Linked DNA regions of Homo sapiens: region 2 is linked to region 1. Evidence: fine-mapped expression QTL. A gene starts in region 1. The other region holds a variant in brackets. All regions are shown on one strand. Distances are between the middles of the regions.

Region 1 (4,396 bases):
CCCGGCTAATTTTTTATATTTTTAGTAGAGACGGGGTTTCACCGTGTTAGCCAGGATGGTCTCGATCTCCTGACCTCGTGATCCACCCGCTTCGGCCTCCCAAAGTGCTGGGATTACAGGCGTGAGCCACAGCGCTCGGCCTTAAAAATTACTTTTGAAAAGAAATATAGACTGTTCTGTACGTATGATGGTGGACCAGAGACCTTTAAGCTCTCAGACAGCAAAACCGTTGGTCACGATGCCCACAGCGCTTCGAAGGCATGGCTTCAGCGGGCCCTGGACCACAGGCTGCCTACCGCAGAGCACAGCGCTCCAGGTGCGCACTCGGGGCCAGCACTGTTCCCCACGGAGCTCAGAGGAACTCCTGCAGGGAGGATGGGCAGCGCAGTCTGCAGCACCAGCGCTATCCAGATAGTCTTTAGAGAGAATTTCTTTTTTTTTTTTTTTTTGAGACGGAGTCTTGCTTTTTTGCCCAGGCTGGAGTGCAGTGGCAGGATCTCGGCTCACTGCAACCTCCGCCTCCCGGGTTCAAGCGATTCTCCTGCCTCAGCCTCCTGAGTAGCTGGGATTACAGGCGCGTGCCACCACGGCCGGCTAATTTTTGTATGTTTAGTAGAGACGAGATTTCACCATGTTGGTCAGGCTCGAACTCCTGACCTCATGATCCGCCCGCCTCGGCCTCCCAAAGTGCTGGGATTACAGCAGTGAGCCACCGCTCTAAAGAGAATTTCTACAGGACAAGATAAAGTCTTTAAAACTTGGGACGAACTTGACACACTGCACACAGCGGGCAAGCTGCAAAACCCGGGTACTGCAACGTCAGTGACAAGTAATTAATACCATCACACGGAAGAAACACTCTCAAAACCAACAGGAGAACCCAATGGGCAAGGAAAACGGCCGGCAAGCATTTGGAAAGACGCTCGGATATTCGAACACAAATGCGTGCCGGGGTGGTTTACCACGCAGACGCCCGCGGGGCCGATGCCTTACCTTCCAGCGCGCGCCGCAGCCGCTCCTTCCTCTCCTGGGCTGAGCGCTGCGCCTCCTCCCGGGCCTTGCGGTACAGGTACTCGCGGCGCAGGCGGGCCTCGCGGCGCAGCTGTGGGAACAGCAGGCCCAGTCACTCACTACTCGCTCCCGAGCCCCGGAACCCCGGAGCCCCGGAGCCGCTGAGCCTCCAAGTCCCCAGAGCCACATCCCCAGCACTTCACGCGCCCCGGACCTCCGAAACAGGAGCTCATTCTCCTACCATCTTGAGTGCCGCTTCCACGTGGGTCCGGGAGAATCTGTGGGCTCCTCCAGCGCGACACAGTCCTCACTTCCGCCCTCAACCAAGATGGTCCCTTAGACGCTTCACTGGTGCCTGCAGCTGTGGGGAATGCCCTATGTTAAGATGGCGAATAGGGCGGGGACATCTCAAGGCGATTGGCCATTCCGGCAGGGCGTTCTCCTTGGGATAACCGATAGACTGGATACAGAATGTCACACGTGACTTAGGACCGCAGCTAATAAATATGTCCGCCCAGGCTTCTCCATCCTCGTCCTCCCCCCACCACCGCCGTGCAGAATGCAGTTTTCAGATGACGAACCGCTAAAACAATCATAATTAGCGGCTGGAAACAGTTCAACTGTAAAAACCGCACACCGACTGAAGGTTGCTTGCCGGCTCCTTTCCAAATTAACTTTAAAACCACTCTTCCCTCAACCAAAATGGTTTCTGTAGAGCTTCGCCTTCTTCCATCGCCACAACAGTGGCGCGACTTCTAAGATTCGGCAGCTTCCGGAAGGACTCAGAACCACCTATAACCCTAGCCGACAGTTCAGCAGGCTGATCCACTTGGGGGCTAATTGGAGAAACCAGTTGATTGGTTGCTTCCGTGCTGCTTCTCTAAGGGCGCTTGCCCTTAAAGAAGCTGACCCAGAGGCCTTGGTGCTGCCGGCGTGGGGATCCCCAGATGGGAACGCCCCTTGATGGAGGATCTCGTGTGCCTATTGGCTGTCCTGCCAAACTGCGGAGGGTGACAAGGAAGAAGGTGGCTCCAGATCTGGAGGTGTGTCCATGGCGGCGCTTGACCTGCGAGCGGAGCTGGATTCGCTGGTCCTGCAGCTGCTTGGGGACCTGGAGGAGCTGGAGGGGAAACGAACGGTGTTGAACGCCCGGGTGGAGGAGGTAGGCGCCTGGGGCGGGCAGGAGGGTACACGGGCGTAAACTGAGTCTCACCGCTTTCCTCTCCCTGCAGGGCTGGCTCTCGCTCGCCAAGGCTCGCTACGCGATGGGCGCCAAGTCGGTAGGGCCCCTGCAGTATGCTTCCCACATGGAGCCCCAGGTCTGCCTCCACGCCAGGTGAGGAAGCTTCCATGCTGGGCTGGGTGGGCGGGCGGGCGCGTTCTAGGCCCGGGCTGCCAAAGCTCCATCCTCCCTTCTCGTCCTTCAGCGAGGCCCAGGAGGGACTCCAGAAGTTCAAGGTGGTGAGAGCTGGTGTCCACGCCCCAGAGGAGGTGGGGCCTCGCGAAGCAGGTGAGCCCCCTCTTCCTTCTGCAGAACCCCTTCCCAGTGTCAAAGACAAAATGCAAATTATGGAGATGATTTAAATTAGGTTTTTGCGATAAGAGAGAGCATCCCAGAGCAGAAGAACAGAATGTTTTTGTAGGGTGGTTTTGCCTTAGACTTTTATAGGAAGTAGAGAAATTGTTGGTGAGTTGCTTTACACTGGGAATAGATTTACAATCACATACATTTCAGTCAGCTGAACAGAAAATATTTATCTGTGTGTCTAGCTAGTTTCAGAGGGACAAACTTCTAATCCCAGTTAATCATCCTGAGACAAAGAATGGGGAGTTGGAACGTCTATGTCTGGTCTGTTGGCATGTTCAGGTACAATGGGTAAGATCAGTGTCACAGGCAAACAGGGTCATCAGTGGGTCTTACAGGAGTCACGGGAAAGAGTGGACAAACAGTCTCATCTGAATCACAAGGGGAAAGGCTGTGTTTTGTGGTAAGCTGTTTCCTGGAACCCCAAAGTTGGAATTTTCCAACCAACAGTGTTTTATAGAATCATGAGCTCAGATCAAGCTCAACATTGTCACCAAGATGATAAAGGTCAGGGAGTAAGATCCCAGCCTCCTCCAACCTTTCTTTCCTCAGGTCTGCGGAGGCGCAAGGGCCCCACTAAGACCCCAGAACCGGAGTCCTCTGAGGCCCCTCAGGACCCCCTGAACTGGTTTGGAATCCTAGTTCCTCACAGTCTACGTCAGGCTCAAGCAAGCTTCCGGGATGGTGAGTGGACCGTGTTGTTTGGCTCTGTGGCCCTCAGACCCTCTATCCACAGGGAACACTTGAGCACTGCTGCCATGGCTGGGGTTAGTCTGTGAAAGGCTTTGCAGGTTTTCCTCCATCCAAACTTCCGTTGTACACCCATTATTTTTTCCAAAAGCATTTACTGGTTGTTGGCAGCATTCGGGTTCATGCTAGCTGCTGGGGATACAGCAGGGAACAAAAGAGACAAACACTTTTCATGTAATGTTTAGAAGCAGACAAAGGCAACGTGCAAATAAGTAGGCCCTTAACATAAGTCAGGCTGTGAAAATTGTTATGAAAAACACATAATGGAGTGGGACAGGAGTGGGCCAGGGGAGGTCTCTCTGAGGAGGTGAAGGAAAAGCTTTGTGGGTGATTTTGGGGAACAGTGCTCTAGATGGAGGAACCAGCCAGGACAAAAGCCCTGAAGCCAGATATATCTGGTATGTGCCGAGGCCGGTGGCCTAGAGTGGAGTCAGGTGATGTAAGCCCTGATGAAGACTGTGGGACCCACAGAGAGGCTCTGAGCAGAGGATGGTGCAACTGGCTGTACAGGGTCACAGGAATGCTTGGGTGCTGGGCGGGGACACAGAGCAGAGGGAGGAAGTAGGTGTCAGGGAGCAGCCAGTGTGAGAAGCAGATAGCGTCACTGGAGGAGGAGGTAAGTGGTGGGAACCTGCACAGGTTTTAAGAATAGAAGCCCCAGAATTTGCTGACAGATAAGATATGGGAGTAAGGGAAGGAAAGGAGTCCAGGAGAGCCTGCGGTCTCCACCCAGAACCCCTGGGAGGATGGAGCGACCCTCACCTGCTGTGGGCAGCTGAGAGGATTCCAGAAGGCAGGAGTTGGTGTGGTCTGTGTGGTATCCACCGACGCCCTGCTGGAGAGTCTGAGTGGGCACTTGGGCACATGTATCTGGAGTTTGGGAGAGGCCTGGGCTGGAGAGAGATTTGGGAGTCCACTGCATAGCACTGGTGTTTAAATTCCAAAGTTTTTGACACAAACACTGGTTTAAAGCTGAGATAGGATGAGATCAGCAGAGGGCCTGGGGAGTATGGACGGGAGGTGAGGGAGAAGAGGGGAGAAGCCAGTCAA
Region 2 (4,396 bases), 22 kb before region 1:
AGCCTGTACCAAAATGTCAGACTACCAGCAGGAGAACAGGTGTTCTGCATAAAGCATATTGTTTGTATTAACAGTTCAGGCATAGTGAGCCACTGTTATCAGAAACCTAGGTTTCTAGAGGCCACCCAAGAGTCAACCTTACAGGAAGGCCTTTCTAAGCATAAACATTTATGCTTGCCATGTTTAACTCTTCTGCACAGCAGGGGACCTACCCAAAATAGCCAAAACAATCTTGGAAAAAAGAACAAATTTGGAAGACTCATACTTCCTGATTTCAGAACTTCTACAAAGGTATAATAATCAAAACTATGTTACACTGGCACAAGGATAAACACATCAATCAGCTTAATAAAATTGAGAGTTCAGAAATAAACCCTTATATTTATGGCCAATTAATTTTCAACAAAGGGGCCAAGACGGTTCAATGGGCAAAGCATAGTCTTTTCAACAAATGGTGCTGGAACAACTGGATAGTCACATGCAAAAGAGTGAATGTGGACCCCTATCTCACATCACATACAAAAGTTCATTCAAAGTAAATCTGAGACCTAACTGTAAGCAAGAAAACTATAAAACACTTAGAAGGAAGAACAGGAGTAAGTCTTTATGACCTCTGATTAGACAATGACTTCTCAGATACACCAAAAGCACAGCAACACAATAGATTGGAATTAAAGTTTCACAAAATGTTTGTGCTTCAAAACACACCATCAAGAAAGTGGAATGACAACCCACAGAATGGGAAAGACATTTTAAATCATGTACTGATAAGGGACTTATATACAGAATAACGCTTACAACTCAATAATAAAAAGACAACCCCAAATAGCCCAATTTTAAAATGAATAAATGACATGAATAGACATTTGGCCAGAGAAGATATACAAATGGACGAATAAGCACATGAAAACCAAAACCACAATGAGGTACCACTTCCCACTCATTAGGATGGCATATATGTCATTGTCATATGCCACATAATGATGTTTTGGTTAACAACAGACCACATATACAATGGTGGTGCCATAGATTATAATGGAGCATATGTAGAAACCTGATACATGGCACTTGATATTGACACTGCATATTAAGTTGGGGAAATGATTGATACTCAGTAATGGTGCTGGGACATTTGGTTTTCCATATGAAAAATATATAAATAAAAAATGTATATACTATCTATGTTTGTGTAAGTATACTCTATGATGTTTACACAATGACAAGATAGTCTTAACAATGCAGACCATATCCCTGTCATTAAACTACACATGTCCCTCCCTCCCTCTCTCTCTCTCTGCTGATGGGAACGTAAAATGGTACAGCCACTGTGGAAAACAAAATGTTGAACATAGCGTTATCATATGATCCAGCAATTCCATGCTAGGTGTATACCCAGGGAACTGAAAACAGGGATTCAAACAGATACTAGTATACCAATTTTTTGTTGTTGTTGTTGTTGTTGTTTTGAGACGGAGTCTCGCTCTGTCGCCCAGGCTGGAGTGCGGTGGTGCGATCTCGGCTCACTGCAAGCTCCGCCTCATGGGTTCACACCATTCTCTTGCCTCAGCCTCCCGAGTAGCTGGGACTACAGGCGGCTGCCACCACGCCTGGCTAATTTTTTGTATTTTTAGTAGAGGTGGGATTTCATCGTGTTAGCCAGGCTGGTCTCGATCTCCTGACCTCGTGATCTGCCTGCTTCGGCCTCCCAAAGTGCTGGGATTACAGGCGTGAGCCACTGTGTCCAGCCTGTATACCAATGTTTGTAGCCGCCTTATTTACAATAGTCAAAAGGTACAAACAACCCAGATGTCCAACAGGCGAATGGATAAACAAAATGTGATATATACATACAATGAAATATTATTTGGCCTTGAAAACAGTGAAATTCTGATACACACTGCAACATGGATGAACCTTGAAAAAAGGACAAGTATTGTATATTAGTGTATTCCTGATTCCACTTGCATGAGGTACCTAGAATAGGCAAATTCATAGGGACAGAAAGGAGAATAGAGGTTACCTGGAAATGGGGGAATGGGGAGTTATTGTTTAATGAATACAGAATTTCTGTTTGGGATGATGAACATGTTCTGAAAATAGACAGTAGGAATGGTTAATCCATTGTGAATGTACTTAATTCAATTGAATTGTACACTTGAAATGGTTTAAATGGCAAAATTATTTTTAACATTCCTCACAGCACCTATAAACTGGCAAATTTTATGTTATGTATATTTTACCACATAATTTAAAGAAAGACACAATGGCATACCACTTCACAACCCCTAGGATGGCTATAATTAAAAAAAAAAAAAAGACAGTAACAAGCATCAGGGAGAAGAAATGGGGACCCTCAAACATTGCCGTGGAAATGTAAAATGATGCTGCCACTGTGGAAAACAGTTTGGCA[C/G]TTCCTCAAAATGTTAAAAATAGAGTTTCCATATAGCCCAGCAATTCCCAGCAATACCCAAGAGACATGAAAACCCACATCTACACAGAGACTTGTATATCAGTGTTGATAGCAGCACTGTTCATAATAGCCAAAAAGTAGAAAGAACCCAATTTCTGTCAACCAATAAGTAAAATGTGGTAGATCCATTCAATGGAATAGTATTCAGCAAACAAAACAAAACAAAACAAAAATGCTAAGCAAAAAAAGGCTACATATTATGTGATTCAATTATATGAAATGTCCAAAGTAAGCAAATGTATAAAGGCAAAAATAGATTAGGGATTGTCTGGGGCTGTAGAGGTTGCTGGGAAATGGGGAGTGACTGCTAATGGATATAGGATTTCTTTTCTTTTTCTTTTTTTTTGAGAGACAGTCTTGCTCTGTGGCCAGGCTGCAGTGTAGTGGCACAATCTCAGCTCACTGCAACCTCCAACTCCCTGGTTCAAGCTATTCTTCTGCCTCAGCCTCCCGAGTTGCTGGGATTACAGGCACATGCCACCATGCCCAGCTAATGTTTGTATTTTTAGTAGAGACGGGGTTTCACTATGTTGGCCAGGATGGTCTTGATCTCCTGACCTCGTGATCCACCAGTCTCAGCCTCCCAAAGTGCTGGGATTACAGGCATGAGCCACCATGTCTGGCCTGGATTTTTTTATGGAATGATGAAAATGTTCAAAAACTTATTGTGGTAGGCCGGGCACGGTGGCTCATGCCTGTAATCCCAGCACTTTGGGAGGCTGAGGTGGGCGGATCACGAGGTCAGGAGATTGAGACCATCCTGGCTAACACGGTGAAACCCCGTCTCTACTAAAAATACAAAAAATTAGCCGGGCGTGGTGGCAGGCGCCTGTAGTCCTAGCTACTCGGGAGGCTGAGGCAGGAGAATGGCGTGGACCCGGGAGGCGGAGGTTGCAGCGAGCTGAGATCGCGCCATTGCACTCCAGCCTGGAGGACAGAGCGAGGCTCCGTCTCAAAAACAAAAACAAAAACAAAAACAAAAATCTTACTGTGGTAATAGTTGCATAGCTCAGGAATATAGAAAAATGATGGAACTGTACACTTTAAATGACTGAATTGTATATCAATAAAGCTGTTTAAAAAGATATTCTAAAACAACTATAATAGCAGTGTACTGTGGAGTATATTTTATATATAGAACTATAATATATAGTAACAATAGCACAAAGCATGGAAAGGGGTAATCGAAATATACTACAGTAAAGTTCTGACATTTTACATGAAATGTAGAATATTATTTGACTATAGACTATAAGTTAAAGATATATATTGTAAACCCTAAAGCCACAACTAAATATTTAAAATAAAGATGTATAGCTAATAAGGGAATAATTACTATGCAATAGATTAATAAAAAATTCTCACTCTGAAAGAGAAAAAAAGAAGAAAAGAACAAACAGAGCAAATAGAAAACAAATAGCAAGATGGTAGGTTTAAACCCAACATTATTGATAATTACATTAAAGGCTGAATATTCCAATTAAAGGCAGAGACTGTCAGATTAGATTTAAAAGTAAGTCCTGGCTAGATGCAGTGGCTCATGCCTGTAATCTTAGCACTTTGGGAGGCCGAGGTGGAAGGACAGCTTGAGGCCAGGAGTTCGAGACCAGCCTGGATTATACGTGAGACTTAATCTCTACAAGAAATAAAAAACAATTAATCAGGCACGGTGGTGTATGCCTGTAGTCCCAACTCCTCAGGGAGGCTGCGCTAGCATGATCATTTGAGCCCAGGATTTTGAGGTTACAGTGAACTATGATTGCACCACTCCATTCCCCTCTGTCTTAAAAAAAAAAAGTCCCTACAATACACCACCTACAAGAAACACACTAAAAAATAAAGATGAACATAGATACAAAGTAAAAGAATGGGAAAAGACATATGCAAACTCTAAAGAAATTTAAGGCCGAGGGCGGTGGCTCATGC

What was found. PIP is the estimated chance that this variant, and not a neighbour inherited with it, causes the effect.
Region 2: its variant is fine-mapped to the expression of VMA22 in whole blood (TOPMed, PIP above 0.99).

What each region holds. Positions count from the first base shown.
Region 1 is chr2:130,339,792-130,344,187 of GRCh38, reverse strand. It overlaps VMA22 (vacuolar ATPase assembly factor VMA22), which reads left to right and starts at 2,024. Exons shown (of 5, transcript NM_032357.4): 1 at 2,024-2,173; 2 at 2,244-2,347; 3 at 2,439-2,521; 4 at 3,149-3,280. The coding sequence starts at 2,063. It overlaps IMP4 (IMP U3 small nucleolar ribonucleoprotein 4), which reads right to left and starts at 1,291. Exons shown (of 9, transcript NM_033416.3): 1 at 1,253-1,291; 2 at 994-1,102. The coding sequence starts at 1,255. RefSeq lists enhancers at 1,259-1,428, 1,559-2,108.
Region 2 is chr2:130,361,866-130,366,261 of GRCh38, reverse strand. The region is part of intron 5 of PTPN18 (protein tyrosine phosphatase non-receptor type 18); the gene reads right to left. Among named protein-coding and RNA genes, the nearest start is that of PTPN18, 8.0 kb to the right of the region's middle. The variant C/G (reference allele first, on the strand shown) is at 2,411.